Linked DNA regions of Homo sapiens. The protein of the gene in region 1 purifies or fractionates together with the protein of each later gene. This does not show direct contact. Each region holds a gene or a part of one and is shown on either strand. Other genes may lie near its edges.

What was found. Proteins that work in one complex are often made in the same cells at the same time.
Region 2: the proteins of ZNF512 (region 1) and NAT10 purify together in Homo sapiens (affinity purification with mass spectrometry; 2 studies listed by BioGRID and IntAct, with this or other methods). This does not show direct contact.

What each region holds. Positions count from the first base shown.
Region 1 is NC_000002.12:27,578,270-27,586,066, reverse strand, and holds the start of ZNF512 (zinc finger protein 512), read right to left. Parts: upstream 3,026-7,797; 5' UTR 2,955-3,025; coding exon 2,925-2,954; intron 2,642-2,924; exon of another isoform or gene 2,541-2,641; intron 2,410-2,540; coding exon 2,351-2,409; intron 1-2,350. Other genes in the region: SPATA31H1 (spermatogenesis-associated protein 31H1), read right to left, coding at 3,540-7,797. UniProt on the Homo sapiens protein: May be involved in transcriptional regulation.
Region 2 is NC_000011.10:34,143,629-34,147,442, forward strand, and holds the end of NAT10 (RNA cytidine acetyltransferase), read left to right. Parts: intron 1-2,455; coding exon 2,456-2,564; 3' UTR 2,565-3,280; downstream 3,281-3,814. UniProt on the Homo sapiens protein: RNA cytidine acetyltransferase that catalyzes the formation of N(4)-acetylcytidine (ac4C) modification on mRNAs, 18S rRNA and tRNAs.

The DNA.
Region 1 (7,797 bases):
AAAAGGCAACAGTTCATATGATCATAATTAACTCTTGGAGATTAAATCAAGGTGGTTAGGGAATCCCTCCTCCAGGTCTCATGTTTTATTTTTAAAGCACTCAACAAAAACAATTCTCAAGTATTTTACAATATCTACCCATCAACCCCAGGACATTTGATTATTTGTAAAAAAAACCAGATTAAGCTCAAACTTCCCTTTCCATACATATAACAAGAAAAAGCTTTGTTGTGATACAATGACTATCATAATTGCATTTATTTTATAATTTGTTGCCACCAGTGTGGCAACTCTCAGCTTCTGATCACAAACATAAAAAGTTTAGCCTATTTTCAACTCCTTTCTGATCTACCAAAAATTTTTAAGAGCCCCTAGCTCATTCTTCCATGTGCAAATATTTAGATTTCATTAGAAAAGTACTTTAGTTCATCTCGGTATCCTTTGTAAACTTATTTAATTCTACCCAATCTTTAAAAGCTAGTGTTCTCCATGATTTCCTCCTCTACTCTTCTCTGGTCTCACTTCTCACCATTGACTCTCAAATGTCACAATCTCCTAGGAAGCTAGTTAAAAGTAAAGATTTCTATGCCCTAAACCCAATGATTCCAAATCTGGTTAATGGATGGGGGCCTAATAATCTTATTTTTTAACAATTATCTCTAGGTGACCAAGGTACATACTGAGAAACATTGCTCTAACCACTTTAACTAGAAGAGCTCATTAAAACTCTCAGCTTGTGGAAGAAAACATCATGTTTCCAATTATTTTTTATAGCTGATAATTCCCAATTCTGTATTTCAGACCAGCTCTTCATCTGAGGTCCAAACCTATTTGTTTTTGTTCCAAATGTTGCTCCTCATTCAGAAATTTGTAGTTCTGTGAATTACTCCAAAATTCACCTGATGGCCAAAGCCAGAAACCCATAGACATCCTATCTTCCTTCTCTTACTCACTTCTCATCATCACCACCTGTACATTCCCTATACGTTGTTCCCTACGTATTCCCTGTATATTGTTCCCACCATAGGCTACATGTTCTTTATTCATCTCTTAGGTTATCATAATAACCTCTGAACCAGTTTCCCAGTACCCTTCCAAATCCATCCTTCATAATGCTGCCAGAGTGGCCTAAGACCAATATCTGGCTATGTCATTCCCTCATTATCTCTTCCAGGATAAAATCCAAACACTTTAGCATGCCGTAACAGGTCCTCCATGGTCTAGCCCCTACTAACCTCTCTAAACGCTCTCCCTGCAATCCCTCATCCTCTATCCCAGACATACAGAACTACTTACTATCCCATTAACTCTTTCCACACGTTCACATGCTGTTCTCTGTTCTGAAAAACCTTTCTCCTTCTCACTAACTGCATGATTCCTCAACTTTCAAGTTTCTACTTAGGAGTGACCTGCTCTGATAATCCTTCCCTTCCAAACTATCACTCCCCTTCCTCAAAGGCTAAATTAAATTCCTACTTAAAAATACTTACTTATTACAATGAACTGTGTTGACCTACTTGCCTATCTCCCCTTCTAGACTGCTAGTTGTTTTTCATGCCTGTATTCCTAACCTACTACAGAACTGGCGCACAGCAAACATGTAGTAAATGTCACCTGAATGAATGAATCCATTTAATGTCTAGTTAACAAGAATGTTTTCTTTTGTATTAACCATGGAAAAACTAAGCACCTTCAGTGTACTAAATAATAAACCAGTCTTACAGACAAGTAGTTTAAAAATACAAGGATTTCTTACGGCCATTTTTATCATCCATCCCAAGTTCATCAGTGTATTTATGAGCACGAATTTCATGTCTGGAGAAATACAGAATTACCACTGAGTCTTTGGTTCCATTTTTATTACAATTTGTACTTTTTTTTTGCAAGCTAGGTTTTTCTCCCACACACTAGACTTAGACCTACACTGTCCAATCCGATAGCCACGAGCTACAGGTGGCTATTTAACGTTAGTTAAAATTAAATAAAATTTAAAATTCAATCCCTCAGTCGCACTAGCCACATTTCAAGCGCTCAAAAGGCGTACGGGGCTAGTAGCTATGATACTAGACAGTGCAGATACAGAACATTTTCGTCACAAGAAGTTCCACTGGACAGCGCTGGCCACAAAATCACAAAAGAACCTTAGAAAAACCTCACTCACTTGGCAAATAAAATTTAAAATTCAGTCCCTCAGTTGCACTAGCCACATTTCAACTGCTCAAAATCCACACCGGGTTAGTGGCTATGATACTGGACAATGCAGATACAGAACATTTTCATCACAGGAAGAAGTTCTACTGGTCAGCGCTGGTGACACAATCATAAAAGGACCTTAGAAAACCTCACTTACTTCTTAGCTCCCACGATCCTCGTGCTCCTCTGCTGCTTAAAGGTTGTGGGTCCCGAAGTCTAGCAAATCACAAGCACACGAGTGAGTGCTAGGGACCTCTGAACCTCGACCACAAAAAGACGAATTCCCCTATGCCCAGAAGAAATGAAGTTCTCCCGGGGAAACCACCTCAAACACAAGAAGGCAACACCTTTTAGGAAAAATATGCTGTCCTATCTTCCAGCAGTGCAAAGGCGGGTAACAATACCAGAGCCTTCGTCTTCCCCCATTCTCAAAGCCCTGTCCCAGGCTCTAAAAGGGAGGCCAAAAGAAAAGACAACGGATATGAGAGACATTGGGGATGTAAAAGGAATAGAAACTAATGGTAATGTGGCGAGGAATTAAATCCAAGGAGGTGGGGAACAGGCAGCAGAACGTGGGTAAAGAAAAAGGGACAGGTGATCTGATCTAGAAGGGTGGGGCCTACGATGGCCTCTGATAAAACCAACTCAGCATGGGACAAAAGCGAGGGACCGCGTGTTCCGGGCTCGACAGCGCTACCTCTAAAGCATAACGGTCAAACCAAGAAACTCACGGCGGGTACAGCACCGAGTCTGGAAGACATCACTCCCTCTCCACGCCTAACAATTTCACCCAAGGGCTCCGGCCAGACCAACGCCACTTCCGCTCTCCTCTCCCGGATGTGGGCTCGGCTCCGCCTAGCCCTCTTCTGAACTTCTACTTCCGCCTAGCAGCTTCCGAGGGGGCTGCGGCCGGAGCGAGTCACGTGATGAGTCACCCTCCGATTCCTCTGAGACCCCGCCCCACTGGGATCGCGACGCGGGACCCGGGAACCTATGGGTGGGGTCTGGAGTGAAGGGGCGGAGCTTGGAGCCTCGGCTGGGCCTCAAAACCCCTGGCTCTCATTCCGAATCTTTGCACAACTCCTCGTGTCCCTCCAGCCTGCCTTCCCCATCCACCCGCCCAGTGGTCTCAGTCCAGATGCACAGGAAGATCATTTACTGCCCCTTTATTCATCTTAGAGAAATTACAGACCCATTCTCACCCGCCTCCCCCCCGGTAGAGAGAAATGGAAGCCTTTCCACGCTGGGGGCGCAGGAATTGGAGGCAGTGGCTGAGCAGGAAAGAAGCCTGGAAAGGGCAGCACGATGAAGACTTAGGACAATGAATAATAGGGGCGGACCTCGCCTCATCGAGTAGCTTCAGGCCTCCACACTTGCCCTGCTTTGGGATTTTTATGTGTGGTCCCGAGGAGAGTTGTTTGATTCTTGAAATCTCTAGACAAACTATGGCTGGGCCTCTCTCCAGGGAAACTGTACTTGAGTCCCTCCTTAAGGGGACTGCGTCGGCTCCTCTCAGAGGGACTGCAATGGTTCCTCCCAGAGGGCCTCCCTGGCCTCATCTCAGAGGGACTGTGACGGGTTCTCTCACAGGAACTGCGATGGCTCCTCTCAGAGGTCCTCCCTTGCCTCATCCCGGAGGGACTGCGATGGCTTCTCTCAGAGGGACTGTGACAGGTTTTCCCAGAGGAACTGTGTCCTCTCCTCTCAGAGGGACTGCAACGGCTTCTTTCCAAGGGACTGAGGTGGCTCTTCTCTGAGGGACTGTGACTTCTCTCAGAAATCCTACGATGGCTCCTCTCAAAGGACCTGTGAGATCTCCTCTCAGAGGGACTGCGATGGCTCCTCTCCAAGAGACTGTGACGGCTCCTCTCCAAGGGACTGTGACGTCTTCTCTCAGAGGGACTGTGATGGCTTCTCTCAGAGGGACTGTGATGGCTTTTCTCTGAGGGACTGTGATGTCTTCTCTCAGAGGGACTGCGATGTCTTCTCTCAGAGGGACTGCAATGGCTTCTCTCAGAGGGACTGCAATGGCTTCTCTCAGAGGGACTGTGATGTCTTCTCTCAGAGGGACTGTGATGGCTTCTCTCAGAGGGACTGTGATGGCTTCTCTCTGAGGGACTGCGATGGCTCCTCCGAGCGGGACTGCGATGGCTTCTCTTAGAGGGACTGTGATGTCTTCTCTCAGAGGGACCACGATGGCTCCTCTGAGAGGGACTGCGATGTCTTCTCTCAGAGGGACTGCAATGGCTTCTCTCTGAGGGACCGCGATGGCTCCTCTGGGAGGGACTGCGATGTCTTCTCTCAGAGGAACTGCGATGGCTTCTCTCTGAGGGACTGCGATGGCTTCTCTCTGAGGGACTGTGATGTCTTCTCTGAGAGGGACCGCGATGGCTCCTCTGAGAGGGACTGTGAAGGCCCCTTTCAGAGAGACTGTGACAGCTCCTCTCGGGGGGACTGCAGTGATTTCTCTGAGACGGACTGCGCCAGCTTCTCTCAGAAGGACTGGAATGGTTTTTCCTAGAGGGACTGCAGTGGCTCCTCTGAGAGGGACTGTGATGTCTTCTCTCCAAGGAACTGCGTTGGCTTCTCTCAGAGGGACTGCGATGGTTTCTCCAAGAGGGGTTATGACGGGTTCTCTCAGAAGGACCGCGTGGGGTTCTCTCCCTATAGAAGCTGGGGTGGTTATGCTCCTTGTGTGTGAGTTTGTCTTTAAGATGTCGGTGCCAGGTTCTCTTCACAGGGGAACCAGGTAGGATTCTTCCTCGGGCCTGAACTCTGGTTCCTGGTGTGGACAAGTTCTTAGACTCCTGGCTGGAGGTTTCATTTCTATAGAAGTTTTTCTTTGATCTGCTACTACTGTCCTTTTGAACAGTTCTCAGAGGCTGCCCCACTGAGGCAGTTTGGAAAGCAATACCACTTTGGGAATCTGTGGGCTTGGGCAGTCGAAGAGGTCTGGGTTGGAAAGAGTAAGCTCTTCTTGGCTGTTGAGCTGATCTGCACTGGACCGTTCCTCCCCACAATATGTCCTCCTGCTTAATGGTTGAGCCTGCTGGCGTTAGCTTGTCAGCTGACCTCTTGTCTCTTTTGATACTGCTTGGTAAGCAATAGTCCCTGGCATTTTGTTTTGGATAATAGTTTTTGCTTGCCCACAAATTGTCTGGCCTTGTCCCGTCCACAGGCTTCCGCCCAACAGAAGCTATAACTCTGTGTGCTGTTTGGAATGCCCGCTTTAGGCTCTGAAAAAGCAGTTGCATGAACTTGGGTTGGGAAGGTTTCTTAGGTTGTCTTTTTAAAGAGGCAGTACTTGTCTGAGTTGCTCCAATCCTCTTCCTTCTTAAATGGGCTGCTAATTCCCTAGAAGGACTCTCTATTGTGGTTCTACTGTTTGTGTAGAACTTTCTGTGTTTTCTAAGTCGCTTGGTGATTCTCTTCATTGGATATTTTGAATCAGAGGTCTTTTTGGTTCTCACTTTAGCCCGTTTTTCATTCTGAGTGCTTTCAGAGTCACTCTCTGGTAGGTTGTGAACTTGAGTGAATTCATAGTGCCCAGGTGCTCTAGTTTTTGTCTTTTCTACTAAGTCAGGCCTGCTGCGTTGTCCTCGCCTGATGTAGACTTGTACAGGAGCAGGGGACTGGGAAGGCCCAGACTGCAAATCTATTGTGGAAGTAGGACTCTTGGAAGCTTGAGTATAGATTTTAGCTTTCCTTTGTGATGGTGATATAGGGCTTCTCCGTATGACGGGTCTATCTCTTTCACGATACTTTGAGATTTGGGATCTTTTCCCAATTCTCAGCCTAAAGCCAAGATGCAACCGAACCTCACCATGGCCTTCAGGAGTGCGTACAAGGTGGAGCTGTGGATAGATAAGAAGATAAGGCCCCGAAGTGGTCTGTAATTTATGATGGCAATTAAGTCCTGAACATCGGCCACACTGTAGGCAGATAGGGTATTTTAGGACTAGACCTGAAGCTAGAGGTGGAGGCACATCGGGGGGTATTTGACTCCTTAAGAGTTTTGCTGCTATTTTTAGCTGCAGATCTTCTAGCAACTGGAACTGTTCTGAGAAGTCAGTCTTGGCCTGGGAAAGATAATTTGGCTTGAGGGAGTGTTGGGACTCAGAAATCCTTGTCTGGGAATCACTCTGTGAGTCCTCACTTTCTTCCATTGGAACAAGATCTTCTCTATCGTAAAATATGCTGAGGGAAGACTCTGACTTTACCAGGACAGGAAGCTGGCCCCCTGCACATGAGACAGGCATATGTTGAATGACTTCTTGGGATATACCATTGAACGTTGAGTTTGTCTTCTTTATTCTCACTCTAGTCCCAGAGTATTGCTGTATTATGGAAGATGTGGAGCCACGTGTCCATATCCTTAAGGCCATTCTTTTCTTATGACCATGATAAAAAGTATGTCTCTGAATATAGTTTTTGACCACAGAAGGCTGAGAAATAGTAACTGGACCCTTCTCTGGCAGGCTCTGGGAAGGTTCCATCAGTTCAGCTGGAATCCCAAATAAATTCTGAATAGATTGACAGGTATCTGCAGTGGCTCTTTCTGCTAAAGATGTTTGAGAACAAAGCTTCCTTTCCATAGTGGTCCCTAAAATATTCCCCAGCATTAGCATAGTGGAGAGATATTTTCTTGGTAGTCGCTGCCTCCAGGCATGACTCTCCCAGACATTGTGTTGTCTGCCCGGGAAAGACTTGATGAGACCTTTCTGAACCCCTGATTCTGCCTGGAATGTCCTAGATCGTGATCTCCAGCTTTGTGGTAGATGTCTCTGAAGTGAGTTCTCTAGCTCCTCCATTTGCTTCCTCTTAGTTGTCTCTTTAGATATTACATCCACTCCTAGAATCTCAGGACATGGGTTTTCCACAATGTTAGCTGTCTTATCGGAGCTTTGATTATGAAGGGCCAAAGGAAAAGTTAAAGATTGTATCATAGTAGGGTCTATATAGGTCTCTTCAGGCTGCAAAATATCTGTCCCAGGGTTTTTTATATCCAAAGCTCTGGATACTTCCTGTATCCCAGAATCCCAAAGTCCTCCTAATTCAGATGCTGTTCTGACAGAGCTTGAAATGAGTGTGGTTGAAGAGCTTTGTAGGAACCTAGAGAAGTCAGTCCCTACTTGTAACTCTTCTGATGTTAACTTCTGACAGTCCCTATTCTGACACACGTGTCCTAGATTCAAATCCTCAGTTTCCATAACTTTAGGAGGCTCTGTTTTTATCACTGTAGATTTCACAGCCTGAAGCCCTTGTTTATGAGTCAATATTGTATGTTCCTCAAATGGAGATGTTTGCGGTGAGGTTAATTCTGCAGACTTCACTTGAGTACATGGACTTGGAGTTAATTCTGCAGGTACTATCAGTTCTTGAAGATGTGGCCTTGGAAGTAAATCCACACAATTTATTGCTTCAATTCCTGATTCTAGGGCTACTCCTATTGGTTCTACAACCTGAGGAATTGGTCCTGGTGCTAACTCCTCAGATTTTACGATTTGAAGGGATGGCCCTGGGATTAACATAGTTTTTACAATTTGAAACCCTGTCAACTCCACTGTTTCCAAAATCTGGTGTTTTGGCTTTGTGATTAATTTT
Region 2 (3,814 bases), on another chromosome or scaffold:
TTTGACAGAAAAGTCATGGTTCTTCCCTTTGAGAGTCCCCTGGCCATTACCCTTGCAGTGCATGTCCCACAGACCAGGAGGGCCATCTCTTAGGCATGGATCTCTTCACTCTTTGTATTTGTCAGCCATGCCAGGGCACTGGGCCTGTCATGGAGAAGGGCTTGAGGGAACAGTCCAGAAGCTGCCACTGGCTGAGACTTGCTTATGGGCTTTCATCATTCAGCCCTCAGGATGACAGCATAAGGGGGCTGTTTTATTACTGTCATTGCTTTAAGATGAAGTAACAAGGCTCTCAGGGGTTAAGTTCCCAAGAAGCACACAGCTAGTGAGAGCCGGAGCCAGAATCAAGTCCAGGTTTCTCCACTGCAAGGCCATAGGTTTAACTGTTACGTTGTCCTTCCTTTGAGCCAGCAGTTCTCAAGGTTTTGGGTCTTTGAGTTCCTTTATCTCTTAACAATTAAGGTCCCCAAAGGACTTTTGTTGGTTATATCTATGGAAATTTCCCATATTAGAAATGAAAAACTGGCCAGGTGCAGTGGCTCACGCCTGTAATCTCAGCACTTTGGGAGGCCGAGGTAGGAGGATCGCTTGAGCCCAGGTGTTCAAGACCAACCTGCGCAACATAGCAGACCCTGTCTCTGCAAAAAAATTTTAAAAAGAAAATAAATGAAAAACTGAGAAATTTAAAAAAAATTCATTTGTTCACAGTAATAACGGACTCAGTCGTTTTGAAAAATACTCTTTTTCATAAAAATTTTGGTGAGAAGAGTGGCATTGTTTTACATTTACATTTTTGCAAATCTCTTCAATATCTGGCTTAACAGAAGGCAGCCGGATACTAATGTCTGTGTCTTCACTGACACTATTTTGCTGTCATATCTTATACTCTCTGGAAAACTGAATATTTGTGAGAGAATGAAAATGAAAAAAGGCAAATAACTGTTTTCATACTAATCCAAATACATTTTGACCTTGTGGACACCTGAAAGGGTCTTAGGGACCCCAGCAGTCCCTAGACCACTCTTTGAAAATCTTCACTCCAAGCTTCTTATCTGCAGAGTGGTGCATTTGTAAATAACTTAGGCTGGAACCTTCATCAGTTTTCCCTGGGAGTACAATGAGGCCTCCCCTGCCCAGAGCCACTGGAATTGAGGCTTTCACAGCTGATTTGGGGGTTGATGGGGAGGGTGAGATTTTGGCAATCCCCTATTTATTGGTTTCCTTAAAAGCTTATATTTTGGAAACATTCGGGAAGAGGAAACCTTGTGTCTCTAGGAACTATAGATCCCAGAAATCAGGTACTGTCTTCCAGAGTCTCCGTTAGTCACTGTGGCATCTTGAAGGATCCAGCATCGATGCCGGCCTCATTTCCCAGATGCTTTGTGGTGCAGCACAGAAGCCCACTGTCAGTGTGACCTGTCTCTGTTTTGTACAGTATGGCAAATGTAGCACAGGGCCCATGATGGCTTTGGCCTTGAGCACGGTGGCTTTGACTGGAACAAAAGGCCGGGGAGCATGCTTGCTGTGGAGACGGCCTCAGCTCCTCACTCTGCAGAGCTTGGCCTTTCCTGCCATTTGTTTGGCCATTGCTGGTAGTGAGAAGCCTCTCGAGCCCAACAAACCAGTGTTGTGTGGTTGTTCATGTGCTTGATGGCTCTGAGTAAATGTGAAAGCTTGAACTTTGTGAGCTAAAAATACTGGTAGCTATCATTAAGTCCTCTGAGGCCTTTCTTTTTCTTCCTTTGAGAGGTACTTCATTCATATGATGTTAATGGTCTCTGGACTGAACTCTTCACGGTCTCCTTATAGGGAAGTATTTGTTCCCAGAGCAAAATTTAACCTGTAAGTTTCTTAATGGCAGGTGGCCGTTTGCTGAGTGATTCCTATGCCAGGATATCAATGAAGAATCCAGGGGCTGGTCGCAGGGTGTCACCTGAGTTACTGTTGTTTGGGTTTTCTTCTTCTCATATAGGAAAAATAAAATAATAGTAGCACATCAGAAAGTATGGCAGGGTTTTCCTTGGAGTCTCATGCCTTGTATTAAGGACTGTCTTCAGGGTCATTGGGATGAATATGTCTAGTTTCCAGAGTCACTGCAGTGGTGAGAGTGGTGGTGGGGAATCCTTGTGGTGCCTTAGGTCTGTCTTGGGAGAGGGGAGCAGAGTGTACTGCACCCTGAGGAGAACCCGGATTTCAGGTGTTAAGATCGAGATTTGTTCTTCCACAGACTAAGAGCTGGCTCAGGGCAGGAGCTGGTCTGTATGGTGTGTCCCCAGCCCCAGCACAATGCCTGCCCCCTAATAGGTTTGCAGAGAACATTAATGTCCAATTGGGTGGCCTACATCAAGTTTCAGACGGTGGAAACCCTTTTTGACAAAGCAAAGCAAGCTTAAAGCAGTCTCAGATGTTCAGATCTGTACATATTTCATTCTTTCTATTTTTGATTTTTCTCTAGTGACAAGAAAAGGAAGTTAGAGGCCAAACAAGAACCCAAACAGAGCAAGAAGTTGAAGAACAGAGAGACAAAGAACAAAAAAGATATGAAACTGAAGCGGAAGAAATAGTGAAGAGAAACTCGGGCATCTGTGTTTGATCATGGGAAGATACTCTCACTAACTGAACCCTCTCTGGCTGGACTGTTAAAAGCAACGAGAGGCCCCGGCACACCTGGAAGCTGGCCGCGAATTCGGCCTCTGGGCCTGTGTGTCTGTGAGCTCAACCTGGCTAAAGGCAGAGTCACTCCCAAATGGGTCTCTTTAGAACTTGATGGCTGGGCACTGCCATCTCTAGAATTGCCACGAGTCTCTCTCTTCCTGCCCAGTCCAGGGCCCTCCTTTCCTATAAGTTCATATTTTGCTTTGAGCCAGCTTTTTAGTCTCATTCCCACACATGTGGAAGCCACGTTGCCTCTCGACCGCCTGAGGCCCTTAAGTACATCGCTTTCTGGTGGTGCCCAGGAGGCTGCTGCTGGGCCGCTGGGTCTCTCTTTGTGGACTTGTACCTGGAGCAGGAGGAACTCCAGTCCGTCCCGGCATCCATGGCAGCCCGCGGTTAGGTGCGCCAGGGTTTGCTGATGTTGTCTTGTGCTGTTCCACTCTTGGCTCCAGCAGACCCACTGTCCCAGAAAAGCCTGATCCTGTAGTTTATGTAGAATGCCACATCTGCGTCCTCAAGACCTGTTTCATCCATTTGGGAAAAGATGTTGGGAAAGGCCACTTTGCTCGCAGGGGTGAGGGGAAGGATAGAGAATCTATTTTTAATAAATAACATTCTAGAAAGATCAGCTGCCTGTGAGTGTTCTGAAATCCACGCACCTGGACGTTTCTTCTGGTGGGTCTTGGCTGCCTGGTGGAATTTGGAAGGTGTTGGTATCAAGGTCAAAGGTGAGCAGTGTGTCTAGGGCTTCCCAGCCCAGGAGTCTGCGGGAGAAGTGGCAGGTGGCTATGGTCACCTCGAGGGGCTTGGTGTGGTGGCTGGAAGCCAGCTAGAACTGCCTCATTTCCTTCCCAGCTCCTTCCAGGTCACTTGGTCCCTTCCATTTGTTGGGAACAGAGGTAACCTGGTGGCTTTACACATACTTTGGTATGTTTGTTTAATGGTATCCAGGCTAATGAGTCTGCAGCCCCGATATGTTGTCTAGGTTCAGAGAAGGACAGGGAAGGAAACGGTAACTTCTCAGCCTAAGGGTATTTCATATACAGCTCCTAGGACTCGTCCCCACAGGGAGAAGAGCAGGTTCTGTATGCGACCCTAGGGCTGCTGAGGCTTGTCACCGAGGCTGTCAGGACATGAGCCTAGGGGTCTTTCGTTTCTT